Linked DNA regions of Homo sapiens: regions 2 and 3 are each linked to region 1. The links come from fine-mapping of genetic effects on plasma protein levels. A gene starts in region 1. Each other region holds a variant in brackets. All regions are shown on one strand. Distances are from middle to middle.

Evidence for each region. PIP is the posterior inclusion probability: the model's chance that the variant is causal. The UK Biobank Pharma Proteomics Project read protein levels with antibody pairs (Olink). The fine-mapping took linkage between variants from a reference panel, not from the people measured, so its PIPs are less certain.
Region 2: its variant is fine-mapped to the plasma level of the C1QTNF1 protein (UK Biobank, PIP above 0.99).
Region 3: its variant is fine-mapped to the plasma level of the C1QTNF1 protein (UK Biobank, PIP above 0.99).

The regions. Positions count from the first base shown.
Region 1 is chr17:79,015,916-79,025,873 of GRCh38, reverse strand. It overlaps C1QTNF1 (C1q and TNF related 1), which reads right to left and starts at 1,705. Exons shown (of 4, transcript NM_030968.5): 1 at 1,380-1,705. C1QTNF1-AS1 (C1QTNF1 antisense RNA 1) reads left to right here. Exons shown (of 3, transcript NR_040019.1): 2 at 5,638-5,868; 3 at 6,258-6,665. RefSeq lists a silencer at 1,284-1,373.
Region 2 is chr17:79,035,356-79,045,313 of GRCh38, reverse strand. C1QTNF1 (C1q and TNF related 1) reads right to left here. Exons shown (of 4, transcript NM_030968.5): 2 at 1,191-1,359. The coding sequence starts at 1,345. Among named protein-coding and RNA genes, the nearest start is that of C1QTNF1-AS1, 13 kb to the right of the region's middle. RefSeq lists an enhancer at 849-1,349. The variant G/AAG (reference allele first, on the strand shown) is at 3,389.
Region 3 is chr17:79,046,089-79,056,046 of GRCh38, reverse strand. C1QTNF1 (C1q and TNF related 1) reads right to left here. Exons shown (of 4, transcript NM_030968.5): 3 at 9,353-9,492; 4 at 6,259-8,509. The coding sequence ends at 7,959. Among named protein-coding and RNA genes, the nearest start is that of C1QTNF1-AS1, 23 kb to the right of the region's middle. RefSeq lists an enhancer at 8,194-9,393. The variant T/C (reference allele first, on the strand shown) is at 6,621.

The sequences.
Region 1 (9,958 bases):
GCCACTGTTGTTGTTGGGTGGACTCTAGGGGCCTCTCCAGCTCTGCAGCTCTAAGAGGGAGGGTGGGGAAGCTTCTGCTTGTCCTCAGACCTCGGCTCCCATCTCCCTGTCTTGGTTCCCTCCTCCCCGGTTGGCAGGTGCTGGAGAGGCCTCCTGGAGCACGTCCTCCCATGTCCTCCCGCTCCCTGCAGCACACACCACAGCCAAGTGCGTCTATCTGTGGCTGTTCATGGCTGCACGGCCTGCCAGGGAGTGTGTACTTTCCTGCACTATAAAAAGCAGAGGCCGGGCAGCCTGTAAGGACATCACATGCTCCCCTGGGGCTGTGAAGTGGCCAGCGGTGGAGAAAACAGTTTCTCACGGCATTTCTCATGTTCAAAGCTCAGGACCAGAAAGCTCCCAGCACGTCATGTTGCCTCCTTTCCTAGAAACTAGGTGGGGTAGAAGAGTCAGGAACACCTCACAGAGGGGGGCGGCTTCCTCCCTCCCTCCCAAGCAGGGATGAGTCGGCCCAAGGGTGCCTGAAGCACGCGGAGGGTCCAGAGAAGATAATCTGGCTTTCTGGGGCTGGAAGAGTGTGGCCCGGGTATTGGCCCCGCGAGGCCCGGGCTAACAGTGGGGACCACACCTGCACCGGTGGAGAAGCCATGGAGGGCTGGGTGGTGGGCGGTGGGTCCACCTGCGAGGTCCAGAAGCCCCAGGGCGGCTCAGAGGCTCCAGCCCCAGGCCGGGGGGGCCACTCCCAGCGGCACAGGCAGCTTCGCTTCCCAGGAGGGCCCCGGGGAAGCAACACCGTTTTTTCCTGCCCAAGCTGGACCCCCTCCAGGACACCAAGGCTGTCAGATGCGGGGGGCCAAAGTCAGCGCTTCCTATTCCGTGAAGGTCCAGGTTGGCCACAGACAGGACTGGACAGACCCGGCGGTCAGGTGGTCCCAGTGATAAGGAGTGGGGTGAGGGCATCCCCGCCAGGTGCAGCCGCGGGCATTAGTACCATTCCTCTTCCTTCCACACCCTCAGAAAGGCACCAGAGAACAGTGAAACAAGATAAACACCCCACAAAAAACTAGGGGGAAGGTGCAATTCCTCCCGTTAGTATCCACGTGCAGAAAAGCCCCGCTCCTCCACAGTCAGGGAGACCCGGGACCATTATGACCCCCGCGCAAAGGCGCCTATGGCGGGGGCTGAGCCAGAGCCAGACGCCAGGGCTGCCCCCGAAAACCCGGGTCTTTCCGCCCCTGCGCCGCCACCGCCAACCGGCCCCTCCCACGGCGCTCTCCGTCCGTCCCGGCCCAGGTGTCTGCCATCCCCGCCCTGGCCACCAGGCTGAAGCCACGAGGATGGGGCGGGGCAGCGCTGGGTCCCCCGGCCCGGCCACCTACCTCCGTCCCGCCGGCCGCTCCTCCCGCGCCGCCCCTAGAGCATCTCCCGCCGGCCAAGCCTCCTCCCGGCCAGGTCCGGGGCGATGCACAGACTCGGTGAAGGAAACAGAGCAGGGGAAAAGGTCTTCCGGAGGACGGCAGTGCAGAAGAGGAGGGTGGGGGGCGGTACGAGCAGCCACAGGTCCCCCCCACCCACAGCACCTCCGTCTCCCCGGCGCGGTCTCCGAGGTCTCTGCGACCAGAAGCGGAAGCGCGGTTTCTCGAAAGTAAAGGAAGAGAGGGAGAAAGTGGGACAGACGCGCAAGGAGCGAAGCCCAGCCAGATGTGAGCAGCGAGGAGCCTCCAACACCCCCAGCGCTTTTCGTCCAAACAGCAGCCGCGGAGGATTAACCGTGTGTGCCCCGCGCCGCGCCTCAGGGAAATCCAGCGGCCGCCTCCTCCCGGCCCCCTGGGGAGCCCGCCAGGCTGAGAGTGGGGGTGGGGCAGATTCCGTGAGTCTGGAGGTCCGTCCAGAGGCGGAGGGGCTGCGAGCCCCGGACGAGAATGCCCCCCGCAGGATGGGGGTGCCCAGCAAGGCTGAGCGCTCCTAGTCACTTGGTAGCAGAGGGATGAGCCCCAAGGCCTCCGGGATCCGCTGTGGCCAACCCTGAGGGGTCAGGTCTCCAAACAGTGGCAGACCTGAGACGCCCTGTGCATTATCGGGGACTCAGACAGGTTTGGGGGAATCTGTGAACCCCCTATAACAAAATGCCAAACTGTGTGTGTGTGTGTGTGTGTGTGTGTGTGTGTGCGCGCGCGCGCATCACCTTTGGAAGGTGATGGTCCACTGTTTTGTTCAGAGTCTTGAGAGCTCTGTGATCTAAAGGTTAGGAAGGAGCCCCTGCCGGGAAGATTTCCATTTTCTAGAGAACAGCACGAGTACAGTGGTGAGCCCAGGATGGCTGGAAGCACTCCTCAGTCTCTATCAGGCCTCTCATTCCTTGATATGAAAACCTGACATTTTCTCAGTCATACACAAATATTTTTTCTGAACAAGGCCCGTAGGCTGCCCTCCCATCCTGATCCCTGATCCAGGCTGCTCCAGAGCCGGCCCTGGTTGGGACCCAGTCTCCATCCCTAGACTCTGCGTCAGCCCAGCTTGCTCTGGAAACTTACCATATCACTAGCAGGGGAAGGATTTGGCCAGAGAAGCAGAAGCCAGCTCTGATGATAACAGCATTCCCCCTTTTTTTGCTTCTTTTTTCCCCCCTCTGCCCTGTTCTCTCCGAGCTGCCCCTCACCTCGATGTTGCAGCTGGATTTTTTTGTTTTGTTATCCCTCCTGTGAGGGTCTGTCTCTGGACAAACAGGAGATGCGAAAATGGGGATGCTGGTTGGGACATTCAGAGCAAAACTAAGAGGCCTCACCTTTCCCTGCCTGGAGTGTCCTCCCATCCGCCGCACCAACAACTGGACAGATGAAAAGAATCAAAAAGGAGAGGAAGAAGAGGGTGCAAGCACAATGCCCACTGCCTTGCCCCAGGCTGGGCGAGGCCAGCACTCAGGTAGAGCTGAGGACAAATGGAGATGAGAACAGAAGGGGAGGCTTCCGGGCAGGCGAGGCGCCCAAAAGCCACTCCACAGAGGCCCTGACTGCATGCGTCAACCCCTCCTGTGAGTACAGGGAGAAAGGCTGCCAGGCCTCCAGCACCCAGGGGGAACTCAGAGGACACGATGGGGATATGAAGTCAACACTACTTAACCAACTAGAGATGCAGCCTCCGCTAGGCTTAGAAGATCAGGGGTTGCTTGTGTTCTTGGCATACGTGTCTGAGGCTTGGCAAAACCTACATCCCTGGTTGCTTATTGATACAGGAAAAGCCAGAGATAAGCTTGTCTCCATTCCTGTAAGTGACATGAGGAAGTTTCCCAGTCACCAGGAGCAAGGCTTAGCACACGGACTGACCTTTCCTTAGTTACTCTGTCCTCAAATAGCCCTTGGTGCAGGGATACCAGAGAAAACAACAGCATTTTTTGCAGCCCTTATGAGACCTTCGTCCATACTTCAGAGAATCTGGGACTTTCTAGAACTCTTACGAGCTAGGAAATCCCTCAGTGCAATGAGAAGGCTTCTTGTTGCCCTGCCTGGGAGCCTCAGACTCAGGAAAGTCGTGGGCAGATACCAGAATTCACAAAGCGGGACACACAGCTTGAAAGAGAAAGAGATGCAGATGATGGGCTGGGTGTGGTGGCTCACACCTTTAATCCCAGCACTTTGGGAGGCTGAGGCGGGAGGATCACTTGAGCCCAGGAGTTTAAAACCAGCCTGGGCAACATAGTGAGACCTTGTCTCTACAAAATATAAAACAATTAGCTGGGCTTGGCAGCACACACCTGTAATCCCAGCTACTCAGGAGGCTGAGGTGAGAGGATCCCTTGAGCCCAGGAGGTCAAGGCTGCAGTGAGCCCTAATCATGGCATTGCATTCCAGCCTGGGCAACAGAGCAAGACCCCCATCTCAAAAAAAAAAAAAAAAGTTGTGGATGATGGAATATTTATTCTTTCTCTTTACCCCATCCAAGATGGCTTTGGTGTTGAAGAACTGGAAAACAGTTATCTTTAACACAATTCCAAGACAGAACTCAGAGGCCCAATATAGTGCAAAGTTCTAGAAAGACAGCTGAAGGCTGGTCATCTCTTCCAGGTGCACCTGGCTCATCCTACTAGGAGGTCTTGTCCCGGCTCTGTCCTACCTTGAGGCAGCCTGGGGATGCTACCAAACTTCAGTGGGCCTTAGCTTCCTTATCTACAAAGCAGAGATAGGTCCAGGGTCTCTTATCTGGAACCAAGGAGGTCAGATATGTTCAGAGTCAGATGCAAATATCCCACAAAGCATCTTACCCAGTGGGCTTCGGGCAGCGCCCCTTCGTTAAACACTTGAATATTCGGCAGTGGGATGAAGGCATCCATAGTCTCAGGATAGTTCAAGCCACATTGTTCTGTCAAATTTGTGTGTGCCAACTTTAGGGAAAAACTAAGGTTTCAGATTTTTTGCATTTCAGGGATTTTGGAGAAGTGATTGTGAACCTGTAGCTTCTCACATGATTAATAAAAAGGTTGGTGGAACAGACACATTGTTCATTGCAACTACCATTATTACAAGTATAATCTTCCTTCCATCCTCTTGGGAAGAGGAGGGAAGGAGGAGATTAGAAAAGGGATTACTCATTTTCCTTGAGGCAGAAACTGGGGATAGGGAGGAGTGGTATCAAACGGTAACAAAGAGAGCCTGGGGTTTCCCAAGATCTTGTGTGAGACCCAAGGCTCGGAGGCATGGGAACTTCCAAAGAATAGGAGTTGAGGTCTGAGCACATGTCTTAGGTGCCACCATCATGGCTCACAACTCAAGGCAGCAGGCAATGGGCAAAGACTCACAAGGCCAGCTCCCAGAGAATACAAGCTTGTCCTCAATAAAGTGAAAAAAAAAATCCAAAATAGAGAGCATGCCAGGTTCCTAATGCTCTTTGTCATCAACTTCACTTCTGCTTTGTAATTTTAAGTAGGAAAGATGGAAACTTTGGCAAGCAAGGGATGTCCTTGCAGAGTGGCTGATTTTCTTCCTTCTCAGCCTTAGGTGCCCCCAAGCAACAAGAGGCAGAGTGTTTTCCCTTTGGCAAAATCCTTTCCTGTTGGGCAACAACAACAGAAATCAAAAATAAAAATCAGCCACAGTGCCTGGGGGATTTCATCAGCCCTGAGATTATGGGTCAGAAGTCAAAGCCAACTTCCAGAAAGACTGAGTCCCCTCCCCAAGGTCTCTCTCTTAGCCCCCACAAACCCATCCTAAAACTCCCTAGGAGCTCACATCTACACAAGGTGTCTGGGTCAAAACCCCTAAAGGCTTCCTGAATATTCCCAAATCATCCCATATTCTTAGTCAAGGGTAGATCCTAGAATGGGAAGAAATATTTCCTGGAACCCCTGGCAGGGAAGGCAGCACGTTCTGTGCCCTCCCTGATTTGGTAATTCTTTCTCTCTCCCTGGGCCTGTCACCACCACTCGCTGGGTCTGTTTACTTATTGCTGGAAAAAGCAATGTGATCTCAGTTAAAGTCTGCAAGACACTCGGTTCCAGATAAGCACAGCATGTCATTAGCAGCACTGTGAGTTTTCCCACCGCGGCCCTAACATCCCGCCTTTCCCAGCTATTTTGGGTCGGGCTGCCCAGTCATCCCACAAGGGCAGAGATTGGTATTGCAAACTTTGAATTCTGTTCCCAAGGGTAGCGACCGGCCGGCTCCGATGGTGACGTCCCACTGCCAAGGGGTGGGAGTGGGGAGAGTCTCCACAGAGCTTCGGAGAAGCTGCTAAGATGGAAAAGTGGAAACTTGGCAGACAGATCCAGCCTCCCTGGCCACTGGCCCATGCTCGTGGCTCCTGGATGGCGCTGCCACGTTCTGAGCAGCTTGGGACAGGTGGAGATCAGGACTGGCAGCTGCAAGGACACACCAGGTGAATAGGTTTCTTTATGGTCCTCACACCTGCAGAAAACCAGGAGGGTAAGGGCGTTCCCTCTTCCAGGAAGCCATGCCTTTCCACAGAAGTCTCCCCTGAGGCCATGTACACGTGTGCCTTGCAACTCTATCAAGCCATTTAATTTCCCTATGCCTCAGTTTCCTCACCTCTGAATATTTACTCTCCTGTTTTGGCAATGAATGTTTTCAGTTACATGGAGACAGGCATATACTGATCGACTAGGCAATATTTTACTTGATAAATAAGATGGGAGGGCCCCCTGGTGGACTCCCCAGTTCCAAGCACTTAACTATGAAATGAGTGAGTAAATGCATGTCAACATATGAATGAATGATTCAATAAAGAATGTCTTGTCCTTTATGCAGAGCCACAGAAACTAAAGAGAATTTCCAAAAGGAGTCTATGGTGAAGTCTCTGAGGATGCAAAGAAGACAAGGAGAATGAAAATCCAATGAAAGCCTGATTGTATTTGTTGACCTTAAGGAAAGTGATTTTATGGTACAGCCTCTCTGGAAGGGAGGGTGTGTTCGCTCACAGAATGCAAATACCCTTTGACCCCCTAATCTTTCTTCTAGGAGTTTCTCCTACAGATAAACTTAGAAGGGTGCTCAAATAAGTAAGTTCAAGGATATCCTCTGAAGCATTGCCGTAGTATAAAAAAAGCACAGATACCCTCAAAGGACATCATTAGGGGCCTGGTAAAATAAATTCCACACAGTGGAACACCGTGTAGCTCTTTAGAGAATAAACAGCTCTCTATATGTGATCTGGAACAATCTCCAAGCTATATTGTGAAGTGAAAATTACAAACCCTTACTGAAAAGCACTAAAGAAAATCCAAAGAAATGGAAAAGCAAAGCGTGGTCTTAGATAGAAGACTCAATATCATTAAAAAAAAAAAAAAACTCAGTTCTCGCTCAATTAAGCTATAGATTCCAAGCAATTCCATTCAAAATCCCAGAAGGTTGAAGGTGGGTGAGGTAGGAGGGGACTTGTCCTACATCATAGGAAGGCTTATTATAAAGACATAATAATGAAGATACTGGTATTGGAACAGATGTGATCAAGTATATTAGTTCAACATGATAGAAGGCCCACCCGACAAAGACCCATGTGTGTATGAAAACTTGATCTATGACAAAATTGGCATTGCACGTATATCAATGGGGATGGGATGGATCAATTCCTAAAAACACACAAGATGATGGGGAATCCACAGAAAAAGAAACGTAAACAGCCAAAAAGTGTAAGAAAAGATATACAACCTCACAGTAATCAGGCAAGGAGAAGACACTGATTACCATCAGATTGGCAAAATTAAGCCATCTGATGATGTCTGTGGAGCTGTTACTGGAAAGGGTCCCAAACCAGACCCCAAGAGAGGGTTCTTTGATCTTGAGCAAGAAAGAATTTGGGATAAGTCCACAGGGTAAAATACAAGCAAGTTTATCAAGAGAGTAAAGGAGGCCGGACGCAGTGGCTCATGCCTGTAATGCCAACACTTCAGAAGGCCGAGACAGGCAGACCACCTGAGATCAGTTCAAGACCACCCTGGCCAACATGGTGAACCCCCATCTCTACTAAAAATATAATTACCCCTATTTACCCCTATTCCTGCCTAACCTCCCAGGAATACAGCCCAGCAGGTCTCAGCCTTATTTTACCCAGCCCCTGTTCAAGTAGCATGCCTGTAATCCCAGCTACTCAGAAGGCTGTGGCATGAGAATCACTTGAACGTGGGAGATGGAGGTTGCAGAGAGCCAAGATTGCGCCATTGCACTCCAACCTGGGCAATAGAGCAACACTGTGCCAAAAAAAAAAAAAAAAAAAAGAAAGAAAAGAAAAGAAAAATGGCTATTCCATAGGCAGAGCACCCCCAAAGGCTGCTGGTTGGCTATTTTTATGGTTATGTCTTGATCATATGCTAAACAAGGGGTGGATTATTCATGAGCTTTCTGGGAAAGGGGCAAGAATTTCTTGTAATTGAGGGTTTCTCCCCGTCATAGGCCATACAGGGTAACTTCCAGACGTTCCCATGGCCTTTGTAAACTGCCACGGTGCTGGTGGGAGTGTTTTTTTAGCATGCTAATGTATTATAATTAGCATATAATGAGCAGTTGGGACAACTAGAGGTCACTTTTGTTGCCATCTTGGTTTTGGCAGGTTTTGGCCAGCCTTTATACTGCATCCTGTTATATGAGCAGGGTCATTGTGGCCTGTATCTTGTGACCTCCTATCTCATCTCAGATCCCGGGAGGTTAAAATGCCTTAACCTCCCAGGAATGTGGCCCAGCAGGTCTCAGCATCATTTTACCCAGCCCCTATTCAAGTTAAAGTTGCTCTGCTTCCAATGCCTCTGACATATTTCCCCCCTCCTTTTTACAAGAGGACCACTAATCCTAAGGGTTGTAGAGGTAGGAAGATTCCCCTTCTGTAGCTTCTTCAGGCTAAATAGGAGTAATGATATTCTCATCTAACTATTAAGGTCTTTTGTATTCAGGGTAGAGAGGAACTCAGTCAGAAAGCATCAGCATACTGACGGCCATTCATAACTCTGAGTTCCAACAAAAGGTGATATCTGGAAGACTGGCAAATGTTCAATTTAAGAAAACGGCGAGTAAGCTTATTCTGCATTCCTACACAACGAGTACAACAGGAATATATTCCACAATAGTAAAGCAAAATAAGTAAAATTATCTGATATGGTTTGCATCTGTGTCCCCACCAAATCTCATGTCCGATTATAGTCCCCAAAGTTGGAGGTAGGGCCTGATGGGAGGTGACTGGATCACTGGGGCAGTTTCTCATGAATGGTTTGGCCCCATCCCCCTTGGTCATGATAGTGGGTGAGTTCTCGTGAGATCTGGTTGTTTAAAAGTGTATGGTACCTCCTCGCTCTCTCTCTTTCTCCTGCTCCTGTCATGTAAGAGGCCTCTCCCCCTTTGCCTTAGGCCATGACTAAAAGCTCCCTGAGGCCTCCCCAGAAGCAGATGCTGCCATGCTTCCTGTACAGCCTGCAGAACCGTGAGCCATTAAATCTTGTTGCTTTATAAGTTACCCAGTCTTGGGTATTTCTCTATAGCAGTGTGAGAATGGATTAATACTTTATCCCAAATAAATTAAATAAGGCATTCCATCAACTGGGCAACTGTTGGAACTAAGCTGATATGGGGTTGCTAACAGATTCCAATATGTGCCCTGAATTAGAATACTGATCCAGATATTTCTTATGTTACCCATCCCTATTATTTGTTCTGAGCCATGGCCAGAGATCACTGGTTGGTTCACAGAAATAAGCAGGGTCAGTCTAGACTGCAGAAAAAAAAAAAAAAAACAATGAATGAGACTAGAATCTAATAACAGGTGTACCATAGTTTTTGAAACCTAATTTTTCTCTCTCCAGTCCCCATTTTTATTAAAAACAAATAATGGTAGGACTTATTTGTTTGAAAAATAAACCTTAGTCTTATTATACTTGGCATGATCATTTGCATGAAGTGCAGTAAGAATAATTATTCACCATATAGGCTCTTTTTACAAAAAAATGGCTTTGATGGAATCTTGTTCCATAAGGAATCTTATATTTGACTTTTTAAAGCCTTGCCCAGCCATGGGTTTATGCCTTCAAATACCTGTATGAGTTAGGTAAATTTCTCTCGTCTCAAAGTCCCAATATAACTTAGGGCTCCTGAACCTGTCACAAAGTGACATTCTTTACTTACCACATGGCAGGAACCCTGTACAGGGACTGCATAGACAAGGTATAAAGCCAGTTTTTCCAAGGGCCTTTTATTAGCTCTATAAGTCAACTTTGATTCCTTAAGGCAGTTTTTTTTATATTTGAAAGCACGCCATTCCATTCAAAGCCTTAGTAAAACCCAATTTCTCCAATTGTGTCCTGTTACAAAAGAAAACAGATTCTTACTGCACTTATGCAAATAACTATTAATATATAGCCATAAGTTAAGAATACTCACAAATAGTTTTCAATTTTTGGAGAAATCAGGTAGAGAGAAAGAAATATGCTCCAAATTTTGTTTACAGGAGTGTATTTTACTCAACTGTT
Region 2 (9,958 bases), 19 kb before region 1:
CTGTCCTCCAGCCTCCAGCCTCCAGCACTGGGTCTCACCATCCCAAACCACCCACCAGCCCAACAAACACCACCAGCCATGCCTTTGCACACCCCATTCTGGCTACCAGGTAGCTTTCCCCTCCTTCTGCACCTGGGAGGCCCGCAGGTGTCCTTCAAGACCTAGTTCACTCCTTTCAGTCTTCCTGGGACCCGCTCCTCCCTCTCCTGGCCCTGCCTCCAGCGTCATGGGTACACCCCTACTACAAAGCCCACCACGCTGCCCTGTCTCTCATGTGTCTATCTCCCTCTCGGCCTCAGAGCTCCTGGAGGCCAGGACTGTGCCACTCATGTGTCCCCCCGTGCCTGGGGGATGGCCTGACTGATAGGAGGGGCTCAATCAAAGAAAGAGGAGGGAGAGGAAGAAAGAACGGAATGATGTGACTCAACCTCAAATCCTGTCCAATCCCATCGTACACTGAAGTTAGTCTGAAGCCTCAAGTATCAAGTCAGCCCAACGCTCAAAATAATGAAGAGACTCCAAGCCAGGCTTGAGCTGTCGCCGGGTCTCCAGGACCTCACTCTGGGTACATGGCAGTTGGATGAAGCACTCGGCTTCCCTAGGAAATGTCCCAGGTCGGCTGGAGTCTCTCTGTCATTGCAGGTCGTAGACACGAAGGCCATCCAGAGTCCTTCACAACCTTTCAAGGGAAGCCGACACTTGGCCCACCCAGTCTCCGCTGTCCTCTCCTGTCCTGCAGTGTGATAAGACGCGTGGGCCATGGACACCAGCTCTTGGTCCAGCATCTCTCCTAAGGCCATGCTCCACTTCTCCCTGCCTCCAAGTGGTGCCTAGGTCCCCAGCAGATATTCTCAGCGGACAAAGTGAGAATGGAAAGACAAACTGGAGGGCAGGTTGGGAGCTTGGTCTGCTCTTAAGGAGGCAGCTGCAAAGCCACTTGCAGACCCCACTCCTTTAGGCTCGTGGTGAGGCTGGATCACTGTCCGCAGTTTCAGGTGAGGTGCCCAAGCCACTGAAAGGAGGAATCGCTCGTCTGTCCTGCAGGACCAGCCTCCAGCAGGGCCACGGCTCAGCTTCAGCTTTCTTGCCTTCACATCTCACAGTGAACTAGCTCCCCCAGGGGCCCCAAGGCCCAGGCTCAGCCTGGCCAGAGCCAGAGCTCCTGCTATTACACCCTCGTGGCCCCTCACCTCTCGGCATGGTCCGGAGGCGACGGCAGCTCCTCAGTCCCCTCCCACTCCTGCTGTTCCCCCTGGACATGGGGCACACGACTCAGGACCAGGCCAGAGGCAAAGGCAAGGAGCAGGCAGTACGCCAGCAAGAGTCCCTGTCCACGGGAGCCCATCTTCCTGCCGGGCCCTGGTGGGAAAGAAACACACAGGGAAGGCACCGAGTTAGGAAGGAGCTGCACAGAGAAACAGCCTGAAAATTGGGGAGAGAAACAGCCTGGAAATCGGAGGTGCTTCCCCAGCCTCACGCCACTGGGAAATGCTGCAGTTACACAGCTTCTGGGAGGACAATCACTCTCACACACCCATGCATGCATACACGCACTCACGACGCACTCACGTGCACACACGCACATGCACACACATTCACATACATGCAACCCCCACACATGCACACACTCAACACACATGCAATCCACACATGCACACACAGTCACATACACTCACATGCAACCCACACATTCACATGCACCCAACACACATGCAATCCACACACATGTAATCCACACACATGTACACACAATACACATGCACAGTCTCAACAATGAAACCTACACACATGCATACATATACCCACATCACATGCACACTCATGCAATCCACGCACCCATATGCACACTCTTAACACACATGGAATCCACACGCTCACATGCACACAGTCAACACACATACACTCACACTCACATGCACATACATGCACATACACAGTCCACACACATGCACTCACACATGCAATCCACATGCTCACATGCACTCAACACACATGCACAACTCACATGCACACATACCCAAATCACATGCACACTCTCAACACACATGCACACACATGCATACATATACCCATATCACATGCACACAGATTCACACACACATGCAATCCACACACATGCACACTTTTACATGCACTCACACACATATACCATCACATGCACTCACATGCAATCCAACATGCACACACATTCACATACATGCAATCCATGCACACATGCACACACATACACACATGCAACCCACACACACATGCAACCCACACATGCACACACATTCATATACATGCAATCCACACACATGCACATTCGCATACATGCAATCCACACATGCACACTTTCAACACACGTGCACACATTAACATGCACACATATACCCACATCACATGCACACTCACGTGCACGCCCGCATACTCTCAACACATTCACATGCATGCACATCCACTCATGCACACATGCGCTCACATGTACACACACCTTCACATGTGCGCACACACTCTGCCCCCAGAGCCTCAGCCAGTCAGGCTGGTGTTGAGGGGTTGCTGAGCAAGGTGCTGTCTCTGCCCACCCAGCCTCTCGGGAAGGAGAGTCCATCAGCCGCTGGCCCCACAGACAATTGTATACCACCCCTCTTAGGACAGTAAGAAAAATCCCAAGCAAGCTTTGAATGATCATCATCCCTTAACTCAAAGCAAAGCTGGCTCAATGACCAGGTCCTTCACCGGTGGGTAGGTGGGTAGGAAGGTGGCTGCAAGCTGCTTTCTGGCCACCAGGCGGCGCATCAGCAGGTGTCCTTGGCATCTACTTTAGGGATGTGCCAAGCCCAGCCCCACAGAGCAGTCATCCTTCCAGGAAGCCAACCCCACGTCTCACTCCCAGAGCTTTTGGCAAAAGCTTGGGGCAGGACCCCCTCCATCCAGTATTGGGACAGTCCTTCTAGAAAGGGGTGCTCACGGAGGTGGGGAGTCCAGGGAGCCCGCGAGGGGCGGCACTTGGGCCCACATTAGGCGAACGCCCACCTGCCACCCTGTGAGCGGCTTGCTCCCCTCGCCCAGGAATCTGGCATCAGGAGTCGCAGGCCCAGCCGTTTCAGGTGGGCCGAAAACCTCCCCACCGAGGGGCACAGCGACTGTGGTCAACTCTAACCCCTCTTTGTTCACCAAAATGTAAAACTCGAAATGTCGCAGGCCCCGTGGGAACACCTCATTCAACACACAGCCGCCCAGTGAGAAGGTGGGTGAGAAGCGTCCCTCACTCCTGGCTGCCAGGCCGGCGTGGACTCCAGCTCTTTCTTGAGAGGCAAACAGTGAAAGCAAGGGCTCATCTCCAAAGGCCCTGGGCCAGACTCTTTCTCCTCTAACTCCTCTTATGTCTAAGGAAAGTTAAAATCCT[G/AAG]ACAGATTTCTTTCTCTGCCCATATTACACACCAAGATGACCGCGACGTCTTACTCATCTTGGGAAGCCGGGAATTTCTTCCACACACACCGTCGCTCGGGGGCTTTGGAGCCTCTGCGGGGGATGTCTGTAGCGGGCTTTTTTTTTTTTTTTTTGAGATGGAGTCTTGCTCTGTCACCCAGGCTGGAGTGCAGCAGTGTGATCTCGGCTCACTCCGCCTCCTAGGTTCAAGTGATTCTCCTGCCTCAGCCTCCCAAGCAGCTGGGATTACAAGCATGCGCCACCACGCCCAGCTAATTTTTGTATTTTTAGTAGAGACGGGGTTTCACCACGTTGGCCAGGCTGGTCTGGAACTTCTGACCTCAAGTGATCCACCCACCTCGGCCTCCCGAGGTGCTGGGATTCCAGGCGTGAGCCACGGCCCAGGACTTTAGTGGGCTCTTGAGTGAAGTCTGAAGGGCTCCCCGCAGAGCCCTCACGCCAAGTCAACATTGCAGGGGAAGATCTGGAGTCCAGGGCTCTCCCGATAGAGCCTCCGAGGTGACAGTGAGGAGAGCAAGGCTGGCCCCCCCGAACCTCTCTCCTCCCCTGTCACACATACCTACACCCAGTCTTCACCACCTTGCATGGCCCACGCCCCATCTCTGCAGTGGCTTAGCTGGAGCCCCCACCTCCAAGTGTCCTACCAGCCAGCTGTCCCTCCCATGCGTCAGGGCCCAGAGACCGTCCCAATGACCAAGGAGCTGCTTAGGCCACAGCCCCCACCCAGAATCTCTGATACCTCCCACCACTTGCCAAAAAAAGGGTGTATGTGCACATGGTAATTTATAAAATACACATCTAAGTTCTCTCTCCAGCTATCCGTCTAGTTAGGTTTGAGAACATTTCCTCATTAATAATTTTTATCCCATCACGGATGGCCCCACAATCCTCTAGGGAGACAATATACATTCATGACTGTAGCAGATATGTAAATGAGAAAACAGAGACTTGGAGAAGCTAATTAGCCTAAAATTCTGATTTTTTTTTTTGACAGGATCTCACTCTGTGAGTGAGTGCAGTGGTGCAATCTCGGCTCACTGCAGCCTCTGCCTCCTGGACTTGAGCCATCCTCCCACCTCAGCCTCACAAGTAGAAGGGACTGCAGGTATGCACTACCACACCCAGCTAATTTTTTTTTTTTTTTTTTTTTTTTGTAGAGACAAATTTTCACCATGTTGCCCAGGCTGGTCTCAAACTCCCGGGCTCAAGTGATCTGCCCACCTCAGCCTCCCAAAGTGCTGGGATTACAGGCGTGATCCTCCACGCCGGGCCAAGACTGATTTTTGAGCAGGGGGGCTGCATTTGGACTCAGACAGGCTGACAACAGATGACAATAAAATCCTGCCCGCCTTGTCTTCAACACCCAACTCAAGGTCTCATAGTCTTCCTGAAGCCTTCCCAGGCCCCTCAACTGGGAAAAATTCTCCATCCTCGGTCTTAGTTTTCTTTTTTGATACAGGGTCTCACTCTGCCTCCCTGTAGCCTCAACCCTCCCGGCTCAGGCCATCTGCCCACCTCAACCTCTCAAGCAGCTGGGACTACAGGCATGCGCCACCACGCCCAGCTAAATTTTTTTGTTGTTTTTTCGTAAAGACACGGTTTCACCGTGTTTCCCCGGCTCGTCTCAAACTCCTGAGCTCAAGCAATTCACCTGCCTTGGCCTCCCAAAGTACTGGGATTATAGGTGGGCGCCATAATTTTATTTTTCCTATTGTCTCCTACTGCAGAGAGTTTGTCTAGCCTATGAGAGTCTACTCAGCAGACCGTGGGTGACCTCCTCCAGGGCTGGGACGTCCCCTAGCCAAGCATCCTGCAGCACCCTGAATCACTGGTGCTCAGCAAATATTTGTCAGACTGAATTCTCTAAATTTGTTTATTTCTCCATTTCTGTATTTCCTCTGTTTCTCCTTGGTGCCTTAATAATTATTCTGTTTTTTCCTTTTAAGTGGCAAACTTGTACCAGTTAAAAGGAAAAGAGATTTTCCTTTCTTTAAATATTTTTTTCCTGAATCCCAAATTTTATATATACACATACACATGTTTACATATATATACATATATACATATTTACATATATATATATATACACACACACACACATATTTATTTAAGAGAGGTTGGAAAGTAACTACAAAACGCATTAAAAAGCTACCTTGGATTATTCTACTCTGTGGTTTCTCAACCCTGGCACCATTGAAGGATTGCTGGGTTTTTTTGTTTTATTTTATTTTGAGACAGAGTCTCGCTCTGTCACCCAGGCTGGAGTGAAGTGGCGCGATCTTGGCTCACTGCAACCTCCGCCTCCCAGGTTCAAGTTATTCTCCTGCCTCAGTCTCCCTAGTAACTGAGATTATATGCGTGTGCCTCCACACCCGGCTAATTTTTGTATTTTTAGTAGAGACAGGGTTTCGCCATGTTGGCCAGGCTGGTCTTGAACTACTCCTGACCTCAGGTGATCCATCTGCCTCGGCCTCCCAAAGTGCTGGGATTACGGGCGTTTGCCACCGCGCCAGCCAACCCTGGCACCATTGAGGTTTGGGCCTAGATAATCCCCTGTGGTGGGGGGCTAGCCTGTGTGCTGTAGGATGCTTAGCAGTAACCCTGGACTGTCCCCACCAGATGCCATTAGCACCACTACCTCTAGTTATGACAACAAAAAATGTCTCCAAACATGGTAATATGCCTGTTCCTCAGGGGCAAAATTGCCCCTAGCTAAGCACCAGCATTTGTTTTTATGTTGGTCTATCTCTTTCTAGTCTAGCAAAGGGATTTTCCACACCTTGGTCAGAAGAGACGGGGTCCAGGATGCAGCTGGGTTAGGAACGATGCTGTCACTGGGGTGGGGTGGGGCTGGGAAACCCCAGCAGAGAGCCCCAGGCTCAGGCTGGTAGGGACAAGGCCACTTTGGCGGTGGTGGCTCTCCTCAAAAGCCTGCTGTTCGGAGTCAGAGCAAACCCAGGTTGAAATCTTTCCTTCCTGAAAAGATCTTAAGAAGCATTTTACCAAATCCCACAGCAAAGCCAGCGTCATAACATGATGATCATTTTAGTCACTTTTGGGCAAAGACAGTATTGCCCAACATCTAACCAAACTTGGCTCCAGATCACTGTTAGTGATTTCCAGCAAAAATCCCCCTACAGTAGGGAGGCTGTGTCCCAGCAAGGTTATCTGGAAGAATGTGTTAGGCAGTTCCAGGGAAGTGCCCTGAGCACATCTTGGCCAGTGACGTGAAACCTGTGTGAATCCAGATCCACGTGGCCCAGTCTCCAGGCCTCATCGCAGGCAAGGCAACTGAAGACAGTTCCAGCATGACTCAAGCTCTTTACTTGCCTTTCCCAAATCCTGCAAATATGAGCCAATTTCCATGGTAATTCGGCGACCATTTTCCTTCCCTCCATGTCCCTGAGGACTAGCCGCTCTTCAGCGTCCCTTCCTCAACCCCACATCATCCACCTACACCTGACCTTCTCCCCAACAAGAACACATCCCCCTTTACAGGAGGAGGGAGGCCAGAAAAGAGAAACCAGGCTACACGCAGGACGTAGAGGAGGACAGGAAGCCTGAGGACACATCCTTGTGAATAATTTGTATCCCGGCCGGGCGCGGTGGCTCACGCCTGTAATCCCAACACTTTGGGAGGCCAAGGCAGGTGGATCACCTGAGGTCAGGAGTTCAAGACCAGCCTGGCCAACATGGTGAAACCCCATCTCTACTAAAAATACAAAAATTAGCTGGGCGTGGTGGGGTGCACCTGTAGTCCCAGCTACTCGGGAGGCTGAGGCAGGAGAATTGCTTGAACTCAGGAGGCAGAGGTTGTGGTGAGCCAAGATCGCGCCACTGCACTCCAGCCTGAGCAACAGAGTGAGACTCCGTCTCAAAAAAAAAAAGAAAAAGAAAAAAATTGTATCCCTTGTTTGCTTGTGGTGGCTCACACCTGTCATCCCAGCACTTTGGGAGGCCAAGGTGGGTAGATTGCTTGAGCCTAGGAATTCAAGACCATCCTGGACAACATGGTGAAGCCCCATCTCTACCAAAAACACAAAAATTAGCCAGGCATGGTGGTGTTCGCCTGTAGTCCCAGCAGCTGCTCAAGAGACTGAGGTAGGAGGATCACCTGAGTCCAGGAAGTCAAGGCTGCAGTAAGCCATGATCGCACCACTGCACTCTAGCCTGGGTGACAGAGTGAGACCCTGTGGTAATAATAATAATAATAATTTTTATCCCTCCACAGGCCTCTTAGCTCTGTGGTAGGTCCTTTAAGGAGAGAGTAGTCACATGCAAGTTCACCATTCCTTATATTTGTTTCAAATTGGGCCTTTTGGCTGGGCGCAGTGGCTCACGCCTGTAATCCCAGCACTTTAGGAGGCCGAGGAGGGTGGATCACTTGAAGTCAGGGGTTCGAGACCAGCCTGGCCAACATGGCAAATCCCTGTCTCTAGTAAAAATACCAAAATTGGCCGGGCACAGTGGCTCACACCTGTAATCCCAGCACTTTGGGAGGCCGAGGCGGGTGGATCACGAGGTCGGGAGATTGGAGACCATCCTAGCCAACATGGTGAAACCCTGGCTCTACTAAAAATACAAAAATTAGCTGGGCGTGGTGGCACGTGCCTGTAATCCCAGCTACTTGGGAGGCTGAGGCAGGAGAATCGCTTGAACCAGGGAGTCGGAGGTTGTGCTAAGCCGAGATCATGCCACTGCACTCCAGCCTGGCGACAGAGCGAGACTCCATCTCAAAAAAACAAAAACAAAAACAAAAAAATAGCTGGGCATGGTGAATAAATAAACAAATAAGTGGGTCCTGTTATATTTTTGTTTCACCTCCGTGCTCTCATGCTTGTGTGCTGACAGCGGACCTCTGAAGCTCTGGGACTATGTGCCTGGGTTTTGTCCTTATGCTCCACCCAGCGCAGGGCCTTTTGACAAAAGCATTCTGTAAACACTGTTTTCCTTTTTCTTTAATCCTCATCAGGTGAGCAGCTGTTCTGAGAGGCAAGAAGCCTATAATCTCCTTGAATTGGAAGGAGCCTTGGCAGACATGTCCAAGCTGCCCTCTCAGCTGACCATCTAACACAGGCTGGGTTTACTGAATGCCCATGATTTGCATGGCATTGTGCAAGAGCTTGGGAGGAAGTGATTCAACCAGGAATTAAATCTATTCCCTGACCTCAAGAATATAACAGGCTAGTGAAGGAAACAGACACGTACCCAATTATAGCTCAAGACAGAACAACACATGTTGAATTAAAATGCTAAGTGGGTAACATTCTAGAACTGTGCTGTCCGGTACAGTGGCTGTTATGTGTGGCTATTTAAATTTAAATTAATTAAAATGAAAGAAAATTCAAAATTCAGTTCTTCAGCTACACTAGCCGCATTTCAAGCATTCAATAACTATTAATACATGTAGGCTGGGCACAGTGGTTCATGTCTGTAATCTCAGCACCTTGGGAGGCCAAGGTGGGAGGATCGCCTGAGCCCAGGAGTTCAAGACCAGCCCGGGCAATATATCGAGACCCCATCTCTACAAAAAATGCAAAGATTAGCCAGGCATGGTAGTGTGCACCTGTAGTCCCAGCTACTCTGGAGGCTGAGGCAAGAGGACTGGTTGATCTCAGGGGGTTGAGGCTGCAGTGAGCCACGACTGCACCACTGCGCCCTAGCCTGGGCAACAGGGCAAGACCCTCTCTCAAAACATAAAAATAAAAAGCCACATGTAGCTAGTGGTTACCATGTTGGAAAGTATAGAATAGAACATTTCAATCATTGCAGAAAGTTTTGTTGGACAGCTCTGTTCTAGATTAAAATGAAGTCATCAAGGAGGAAGAGTAACTGTGAACAAACAGCAGGCCAGAAATCTGAGAGGCGTTTAGACCCTTTCCTCTCATGCATCCGCATCTCATCCATCCCCAGCCTGCTTGAATAGATCCTAAAGGTCAACTCTCCCTCCTGCCCTGTGCCTGTATCAGATGCCCTCCAGGGGCTCCGCTGTCCCCCAGACCTCAGTCCACCCAAGACAAGCATCTTCGTCTGCCTTTTCCAGGGTCTAGACATTGCCCCCGCCCCCAGTTTACATTCATCTCCCAAGGAAACTTGGCATAAGATAGGACTTTATCCCACATCTAGTGGTGTCCAGTTCAAGAATTGGATTCAGGCCAGGTATGGTGGCTCACGCCTATAATCCCAGCACTTTGGGAGGCTGAGGTGGGCAGATCACTTGAGGCCAAGAGCTCGAGGCCAGCCTGGCCAACATGGTAAAACCCTGTCTCTACTAAAAATACAAAAATTAGCTGGGTGCAGTGGTGTGTGTCTGTAATCCCAGCTACTCAGGAGGCTAAGACAGGAGAATCGCTTGAACCCAGGAGGCAGAGGTTGCAGTGAGCTGAGATCGCATCACTGCACTCCAACCTGTGCAACAAAGTGAGACTGTCTCAAAAAAAAAAAAAAATACGATTCAGCCCAGAACTCAAACACTCCTGGTTTCTACACAGCCTCAACGGCCCCTTAGCCATCACCACCCCTTCGTGC
Region 3 (9,958 bases), 30 kb before region 1:
TGGGAGGCCGGGGCTGGTGGATCACAAGGTCAGGAGTTTGAGACCAGGCTGACCAACATAGTGAAACCCTGTCTCTACTAAAAATACAAAAAAATTAGCCAGGCGTGGTGGCATGCACCTGTAATCCCAGCTACTTGGGAGGCTGAGGCAGGAGAATCACTTGAACCTGGGAGGCAGAGGTTGCAGTGAGCCAAGATCATGCCACTGCCCTCCAGCCTGGGCAACAGTGCAAGACTCCATCTCAAAAAAACAAACAAACAAACAGTTTGTCTCCCCAAAAAGAAACCAACTAGCAGTCGTATTCTAATCCCCCCACCACACACAAGCAGCCTTGGAAACTTCTCGTCTGCTTTCTGTCTCCATGGATGTGCCTCCCCTGGAGATTTCATATAAATGGAATCCCACAATATGTGGTCTTCATGTCTGGTTTCTCGCACACAGTGTAATGTTTTGAGGTTCATTCCATGCTGTAGCATGCATCACTAATTCATTCCTTTTATAGCCAAATAATAGCCCATCATATGGACACACCACATTTTATTTATTCCGTTACCCACTGATGGACATTTGGGTTGCTTCCATTTTTTGGCTATTATGAATACTACTAGGAACATTGGAGTACAAGCTTTTGTGTGGGAGCTTGTCCTTATTTCTCTTGGGTATACACTTAGTGGAAGTACTGAGTCATGTGGAAACTCTATGTTTAACATTCTGAGAATTTTCCGACTGGTTTCCAAGATTATTATTTTCTTACTGGCGACATCCGTTGAGAATCGCCACCAAATTCACCATTATTCTAGGCCTGGATTCCTCCCTGCATCTCTCACCTTTCCTCTGCATTCATTTTCTCTCAGTGCAGGTTTTCCAGTGACAGAGTCTCCCAATTTTTGTTTGTTTGAAAATATCTTTTTAAAAATATTTTAATTGGAAATAGAACTGAGATGGACAGTTATTTCTAGCCCTTTAAACATTCCATTCCGCTATCTTGTGGCTTCTGCTCTTTTGCTTGTATTTGTTCATTCTCTTGTTGCTATAAAGAACTGCCTGAGACTGGGCAATTTACAAAGAAAAGAGGTTTAATTGGCTCACAGTTCTTCAGGCTGTAGAGGAAGCATGATGGCTTCTGGAGAGGCCTCAGGAAACTTTCAATCATGGCAGAAGGCAAAGGGGAAGCAGGCTGGTCTTGCATGGCCAGAGCAGGAGGAAGAGAGAGACGGGGAAGACATTTTGACACAACCAGATCTCATGTGAACTCTATCACAAGAACAGGGGGACTCAAGGGGGAACCACCCCCATGACCCAATCACCTCCCACCAGGCCCCATCTCCAACATTGGGAATTACAATTTGACATGCTTGGGTGAGGACACAAATCCAAACCACAGCAGAGGTCAGTTGTGATACTTATTATTGCTCCTGTGAAAGAAAATATTTTCCCCTCTGCTTTTAAGACTTTCTCTTGGTCTTTGGTTTTTAGTAGTTGTACCATGATATGCCATGCTGGCTGTGACCTTGGTTTTATTTGTCTTGCTTGGGATTCACTGAGTTTCTTGAATCTGTACCTTAGAGACTGATCAATTGGGTGATTTTTCTCAGCTATTTTATCTTCCAATATTTCTGTTGCCTTTTCTCTCTCATGTTGCCTCCTGGGACTCCAGTTGCACGTGTATTGGGCCTTCTTATTGTCACTTCTGTACTTTTGTTCTGTGTTTTCATCCTTTTGTCTTTCCATACTTCTTTCTAAATATTTTCTTCTGATTTCTCTTCTAATTCACTGATTTTTCTTTTCAGCTGTGTACAGTATGATGGTATATTTATCCACCAAATTCTTAGTTTATTTTTTTTTTTCTTTTTCTTTTTTTTTTTTTCTGAGACAGGGTCCCACTCTGTACCCCAGGCTGGAATGCAGTGGTGCAAGCATGGCTCACTGCAGCTTCCACCTCCCAGTTTCAAGTGGTCCTCCTGCCTCAGCCACCCAAGTAGCTGGGACTACAGGCATGTGCCACGATGCCCGGCTAGCTTTTGTATTTTTTTGTAAAGATGGGATTTTGCCATGTTGCCCAGGCTCTTAAATTCATTTGTTTTGTTTTTCACTTCTAGAGCTTCCATTTGCTTCTTTATTATCACCACCATCATCACCATCATTAAAGTTTTCTGCCACAAATATCAATCCTTTTTTTTTACCTCCCTGAATGTAGCAAGCATAGTTATTTTATATTCTGATTGTGATAACTCTAAATGGTAAGAGTTTTTTCCCTCATGTGGTAGGCATTTAATACATTCTTGTGGAATATCTCAGTAAGCAGGATCTCAAGTTGCTTGGAGAACTAACTTAGTGGCTATGTCAATTGAGCGGTTGGAACATTTCCTGTCTTTAGGCAAGGAGGTTTCCAAATTTTCCAGAGCATATGGACTTCTAATCCTATCTATAAAAGTGTCTGAAGTAGAAATTCCTTGTCCTTGCCTGGCCATCTGCATAATGAGAAATGGGCTTACTCCATTCTGCCCTAGGAAGGGCAGGATATGGGAGCACTTGAGGTCACCATAGTTTCCCATCCCTGCCCCAGCTGTGGAAGGACTTTAGAGAGGAAGACATGGTCCTCAATTAGTCATTCCTTGTGGAATGCTTCCCCTGGCACCTGCATCAGCCTCCTGCTGACTCTGTGATCTCACCCACCAGTTGATTCAAAAATGCTTGTTCAACAATGTCCTTGGAAAAACTAACCCTGACACTCCCATCCCATCTCACTGGCCCTTGGCCCCTGTGCCATCGTAAGCCAAGCCCAGAACAATGGGACCAACTCTGAAGGTCATGACTCTGGAGCTCCAGGACTTTCCAGCCTTGAATAGAGAAGGCTGCGGCAGCCTAATTTTTTGGTTTTGTGTTACTTGTTTTGATAACTGCTGTTTATTGAGATATTATTTACATACCATAGAATCATCCATTTAAAGTGTAGAATTCAGTAATTTTTAGTTTAGATTTGCTTATTCTGGTCATTTCATATAAATGGAATCATGCAACGTATGGCCTTTTCTGTCTGGCTTCTTTCCCTTTTGATAATGTTTCTGAGGTTTACCAATGTTGTAGTAGGTAATAGCACTTCATTCCTTTTTTTTTTTTTTTTTTTTTTTTTGAGATGGAGTGAGTCTTGCTCTGTCACCCAGGCTCTGGAATGCAGTGGCACGATCTCCGCTCACTGCAACCTCTGCCTCCCAGGTTCAAGCAATTCTCCTGCCTCAGACTCCCAAGTAGCTGGGATTACAGGCACACACCACTACGCCTGGCTAATTTTTGTATTTTTTTAGTAGAAACAGGGCTTCACCATGTTGGCCAGGCTGGTCTCGAACTCCTGACCTTGTGATCTGCCTGCTTTGTATAGACACACTGCATTTGTTTACCTGTTCATCAGCTGAGTGGGCACTTGGGTTGTACCTGCTTCTTTGTTATTACTAATAATGCTGCTATGAACATCTATCTATAAGCTTTTCATAGACATATATTTTCATGTCTTTTGGGTATATACCTAGAAGTGTTATGGCTGGGTCAGCTGTAGCTCTATGCTTAACATTTTGAGGAACTGCCAGGCTGTCTTCTAAAGGGGACTCACCATTTTGTATTCCTGACAGCAGTTCCAGCAGCTCCATATCCTCAGCAACACATGTTATCATCTGTCTTCTTGACAACAGCCTTCCCATTGGTTGTAGAGTTGTCTCACTGTGGTTTTGATTTGCGTTTCCCTGATGATACACCTGTTCATGTGTGTATTGGTGGTTGTAGAGTTGTGTCTCACTGTGGTTTTGACTTGCATTTCTCTGATGATTACACCTGTTCATGTGTGTATTGGTTACTTGTATATCTCCTCTGGAGAAGTGTGGGCTGCTTTGCCCATTTTTAATTAGATTATTTGTCTTTTTATTATTGAGTTGCAAGAGTTCTTTATATATTCTAGATATAAGTCCCTTATCAGATATATGATGGCAAATATTTTCTCCCATTCTGTGAGTTGTCTTTTCACTTACTTGATGGTGTCCTTTGAAACACAGAAATTTACAAGTTTGATGATGTGCAGTTGATCTATTTTTTTCTTTTGTTGCTTGTACCTTTGATATCATACCTAAGAAATCATCACCTAATCCAAGGTCATGAAGATGTATGCCTGGGCTTTCTTCTAAGAATTTTGTAGTTTTGGCTCTAATATTTAGGCCTTTGATCCAAGGCCTAATTTTCGTATATGGTGTGAGGTAGGGGCCCAACTCCATTCTTTTGCATGTTGGGACATCGATATCTTGCATTATTTATTATTTTCTGTTACATTCTATTTTTTTTTAATAATCTGGGCAACAATGTCTCATCTTATGCTAGTCATTATGGCCCAATAAAATCAGCTTGCCATCACGCCACTGCGTTCCCATAGTGGACCTTACAGAAAATTATCATTGAGGACTAGTGTGGGCCATGACCTCCTCATCCCCATCCCTGGCTACAAAAGCTCCTGAAAGTCCTAACATAGGCAGTTATTTCGTTGGGCTGAGTCATCAGCCATTACTAAGTCCTTTTGCTAAAACACTGATATTTGTATTGCAACTGAGTTTTCTAGACCCTTTAGTGAGATGGCTAGCCAATTTCTCACCAGCTTGGGACAGGAAACCGGGAGAGGATCCCGTCAAGATCAACTGCTTGGGGAGGCATCAGGTGGAGCAGATCACTTGGTACCAAGCGTGCAGCTCTTCTGAGAAGGCTGACCTCTGTCAGACGGCAGTCGAAACCCTGGGAAAGTCCTCAGGAAGGCAAGGACCATATCTTATCTGTCCTTATGCCTCCAGTGCCTAGCACACGATCTGCCACAAAGCAGGAGCAAGGGAAATATTTGGAGGAAGAATGGGTGGAGCATAAATGCCAGCCTGAAAATATTGGGGGTGGGGAAACCCCAAAGATAGAGGGATGTTAAAAGGAGCATGGAGCGGACTGGAGCAGACCCTGCCTCTTTTCCCATGGGAATTTGGCCAGCAGAGAAACAGGTATTATATGGTCCACGTGACTCCGTCTCCAGAGAGGGTTGTCATTGGGCACCTGTATGAAGCTGGCTGGTTCCCTCCAGGCACCTCTGGGAAGGGCACTTAGCCCTTGCTCCCCACTGCCTGGGAAGCACATCCTCTGCTGAGTGGCCTGAACTCCGCGGAGGTAGGAGCCTGCTCCTTCTCCCGTACAGAGCAGGATTGCAGGGTCCCCTTGATCCAGTCTGGCTCTAGCACAAGGCCAAGCATGAACACATGGCCTCACCCCAGGAGCGGGCAGAGGAAGGAGATCAGCTGTTTGCAGCCTGCTGGCACCAGAGAGAGCAAGGTAGCTTCTGTGCTCCCCGCTGGCAGCTGGATGCAGTGCCTGGCTGTTAACCCAGTTGGCAAGCGATGGAGAGAAGAAGGAACATCTGCTCTGCACCACTGGAGAACAGAGGGGGCTGCTGATGGGTGTATTCAAGCTGCAAGCCATGGTAGAGGTTGAACTGTATCCCCCAAAAAAAGATATGTCCAAGTCCTCACCTCTGCTATCTGTGAATGTCACCTTATTTGGAAATAGTCTTTGCAGACGTAATTAAGTTAGGATCTAGAGAGAAGACCATCCTGGATTTACAGTGGGCCCTAAATATTTACCTGATTCTCTAAATCCAGCAACAGGTGTTATAGTAAGGGAAGGGAGAGGAAGATTTGAGACACACGGAGGGGAAGGCCACATGAAGACGGAAGCAGAACCTGAGGAGATGCAGCCGCAAGCCAAGGAGTGCCTGGGGCTACCAATAGCTGGAAGGGGCAGGAAGGACCCTCCGCTAGAGGCTTATGCCACCCACGCCCCAACCCCAGTTTCCACGGCAGCCCTAGGAAAGGAATAGTGTCCAGGCTGCAGAGCCATGGCCAAGCTGCTACCTCCACAGTTTCTCTCCCTCCCGGGGGACAGTGCGGTCCTGCTCAGGAGATCAAGCCCCTGCCTCCCACCCACCTCTCACAAGTCCCCAGACCCACCCAGGCCCCAGGCGCCCGACTCAGGCACACGTTCAGCTGCAGCTGAGACACGCTGTCGCTGCCCCACCCATGGGAGGCTGCACCCCCTGGAGGAGCGAGGCAACTCAGGGTCCAGCATGCACCTGCTGGGTACCAATGTCCCCAGGTATGAAGCTGAGGGCCTCCCAGGCAGGAGTGGGCCTTGGGTGGAGAGGAGAAGACGAAAAGGATTCAGTTTAATGAGCAAACTGACGAGGCAGGATGCTGAAAACACAATTCTGAGTTTAATGTTTTCTGGAAAGAGCTGGGGGAGCTTAAGCAGCGAGTGTGGCGCTCTGCTTCCGGGCACGCCCACAGCAACTCGGCTTCAGAGTCTGACCCGCAGAAGTTCTTTAAAGAGAGGGACTTAGGGACCCCAGATCCCGGCAGCCAGGCCCAGAGAGGGAAGCAGGATTAGTCAAAACCAGGTGGGGGATGGGGGGAAGGAAGAGAGGCAGCGGGGGTTTGGGGGCCCAGCGGGTAGCAAGAGTGACCCTGGGCATCAACATGGGGTGAGGTGGAGAGGGGCTATGGGGTTCCTGGAGATCAGAGTCTGGGGTGGCCATGGGCAGGGCGAGAGCACCG[T/C]GGAGACACCGCAACCCTGCTCCAGCTGGTCCTGCAATTGCCACAGGGGCTATTGCCTCTCCTGCCACCCAGCTCCTGAGAGTGAATCCTGACACGGGTGATTGGGACGTGTACTTCCTCTTGACTCTGGTCTCAGGACTGAGGCTCACAGGAGCCTGAGAAACAGACAAGCGGGAGCTTTCTAGCCCCTTCCAGCTCTCCCCTGCTCTGAAGCCTAGAAAAAGCCCCTCTCAGGCTACTGGTCAGAGGCCTGGATGAGGGCAGTGGGGGCAGAAGGGGTCTGGATCAGCCTTGCTGCCAACCAACACAACACACGTGGAAGCGGTGATGCTTAGCCCACGAGGAGATGGGAGACTGCAGTGCTGCTTGAGGTGTTTTATAAAAAACAGAAGCCAAGGCCCCGGGGCCTTCTGGGGCTGATTTGTGTGGGAGGCGGCACAGAAAGCCGATGCCAGGGTGGCAGGCATGGAGACCACCCCCCAGGGCTCTGGGGTGGCACAGGGGTGGAGCAGAGCCACACATGGATGTACCAGGAGCTCTGCCCCTCATAGAAACATCTGCAGGCCTGGGGGACCCAGGGGTCCCTGGCCACTGTCAGGAGCCCTTCGGCTGCTTCTACCAACCTGGAGCCAAGGCAGGGGGCTCAGCTGTCCCTCTGGGAGGCTGACGCCTGGGGCCCCAGCCCCCATCACCTCGCAGCTGTGACTCAGAAAGACCAGCAGAGCCCTTGGGCAAGGCCACAGGGATGTCAGGGTCCACCTATCCCTCAAGAAAGTTCCTACGTGGCTTAAAAGAATTAAGCCAGAGGTAGTTTCCTGCCCCCGGCCCCTCCCCTGACCCCAGAGCTTTAACTTTGGATCTTCTCTTAAGCAGAGTCTCAACTGAAAAGGCCTCTCTCTTGGGAGCCAGCAGGCTGGCTGGAAAGACAAAAATAACAACCCTTTTCTTTGTCCTCCACGGTTTACTTTGCTCCTTTTGAGACCTTTAGAATTTGCCTAATTATTTCCAAGGACTGGAGCCGCGGTGCCGCACCCTGGGACGCCCTGCCGCCACCCGCGTCTCGCCGTGCGGGGTCACTTGAGGATGTGTGCAGAGAGGGCCGCGGAAGGTCCCAGAGGGTTCTCGCGGGTGCCCCGCCCTGGTGATTTCATCTGCCGTCAGCTCTCTCCAGAGGCTGCGGGATCTGGGAGCACCGATCGCTTTGGCTTTCTGTGTGTGCAGGGCGTCTCACTGAATGCCAAAGCCAGGGAGTCGGAGTCCAGGGATCGGGGAAGAGGCGGTGGGGTCAGCACAGCGCAGGGGTGGAAGGTGGCGAGAGGAAAGGAGGTGGCCGGCCAGCTAGGGCTCGGTGGCGTGCTTGACCAGGTAGCCACTGAAGGTGATGTAGGTGTCCAGCTCCTCGCTGAAGATGGCGTTCTCACGTTCGCCCTTGTAGAGGCGTACCCACACCTGGTCCTGCTCTCGCAGCTCCAGCATCAGGCTCTGGCTTTGCATGATGCTGCGGTCGCCCACCTGCGCGAACAAGATCACCACCTCCTCCTCGTTCTTCATGATGTGCAGGTAGGTCTCCTTCTGGTTCCAGGTGTGCACGTTGAGGCTGAAGAAGTAGAGGCCGGGCACGTAGCAGTAGAACTTGCCGGTGAACATGTTGAAGTGGTCGTAGAGGTTCACGAACTCCGTGTCGAAGATCACCGTCTGGTAGTAGTGGTTGCTGTGCATGGGCTTCTTCCGGCCCACCGAAAAGGCGGCGTAGTGGCTCTTGCACCGCTCCCCAGGGGCCCCCATGGAGCCCTTCTGCCCTTTGGGTCCAGTGTGGCCCCTGGCCCCTGCTGAGCCTGTTTTGCCATATTTCCCTTGGAGGCCTCGATCTCCGCGGTCACCCTTCTCCCCTAAAAGGGATGGGAAAACGCGTGCTGTTAATGGAGCAATCCGGTAGTGTCCTGAGCCTTGGCTGCTCACTCTCCGGTCCCTGGCGCTGTCCTGATTCGTCCTCACAGCCCTGACCTGGCAGAAGCTTCACTCCTGCCCCCAGCCCCCTGCCACGGGCGGCGTCCCAGCCTGGCACAGAGGTATTGTGATTCCCAAAATGGCCAAGCAAACAGACTCAACCTCAAGGATGGTTCTATTTTCGCCCAGAAGCAATAATTTTTTTTTCCTTCTGGAAAGCCCTGGTAAAAAAAAAAAAAAAGAAAAGAAAAAAAAGAAAATGGAACATACGGGTTCGTCCAAAAGCAATGGGCTCTGCGGCCAGACCGACGGCTCGCTCTGAGCAAATGAACTCCAGATGTCGGGGCCAGCTGGGGATCTAGGCTGCAAGTGTTTCCAGTTCGATTTCACGGGGCTGTGCAGGGTTATCTGCCGTGTGCAGGACCGGAGCGAGCAGGTGGCATTTCAGAAAGCAGGCTGGGGGACCAAGCCCCAAAGCAAAGGGCCTAGAAGCCTGGCGTCCACATACAACTGGAGGGACGAGACCCCGAGTAGCCTCTGGGCTCCCTCTCCTGCTCTTGGTCCTGTGGGCCCCTTTCCAACCCCTCCTCTTGGAGAGGGGCCAGAGCCTCAAAATCAGAATTTCCTGTGCCTTCCCCTCTAGATGACAGCCTGCCTGCCTCTGCTCCCTGTCCCGAGGGAGCCATTCTGCTCTCGCCTAGCCCCACCCTAACGACTCCATCCCTTCCTCCGGATCAGCACAGAGCAGCCCGGCCACCCCGTGCTTGTCTTTGCAGCCATCTGACCTTTCAAGATAGTGATGTTGATCTGGGGCACGGCGGTCGCCGGGTACATGGAGGTACCGGGGTCACAGCAGCGCAAGCACCGGGAAGCAGGGAGCCCCTGGTCCTGACTGGGCCTGTATTTTTCATGTTGTTCTTCAGCCCTGAGGGAATAAAGAATCACAGTGAAAGTCAGCCACTCTCAGGCCTGGAAACGCTGCTCTCTCCTGCTGCCAGTGGTTCTGGCATGCCTGACCTGCCTTCTCACTCTCTCACCTGGACCCACAAGGCTCTGTGTTCACGCTGGTGGGCTCACGGCCCACTCTGGGATCCTCACTACCGAACGAGCCCCCTGCCCTCTGTTAAAGGCAATGACAGTCCTGGAAACACACGCAGCGATCAATTGAGTGCCACGCAAGATGGGGGCTGCTCGGGAGAAATCCACACTTCTAAGAGAGGGTCTTTGGGTGACACAAGACAATGCCGGGACTCCCTATCGTATATCCGTGATGCTAGAAAATAACATATGAAGCTGACTCGTCTGCAAATAAGAAGGTTCAACTGGATCTTTAGGATTCCCCTCAGCTGTAGCCGCTGGAGAGACTCTTATGTTTCCAACCTGATTGGAAG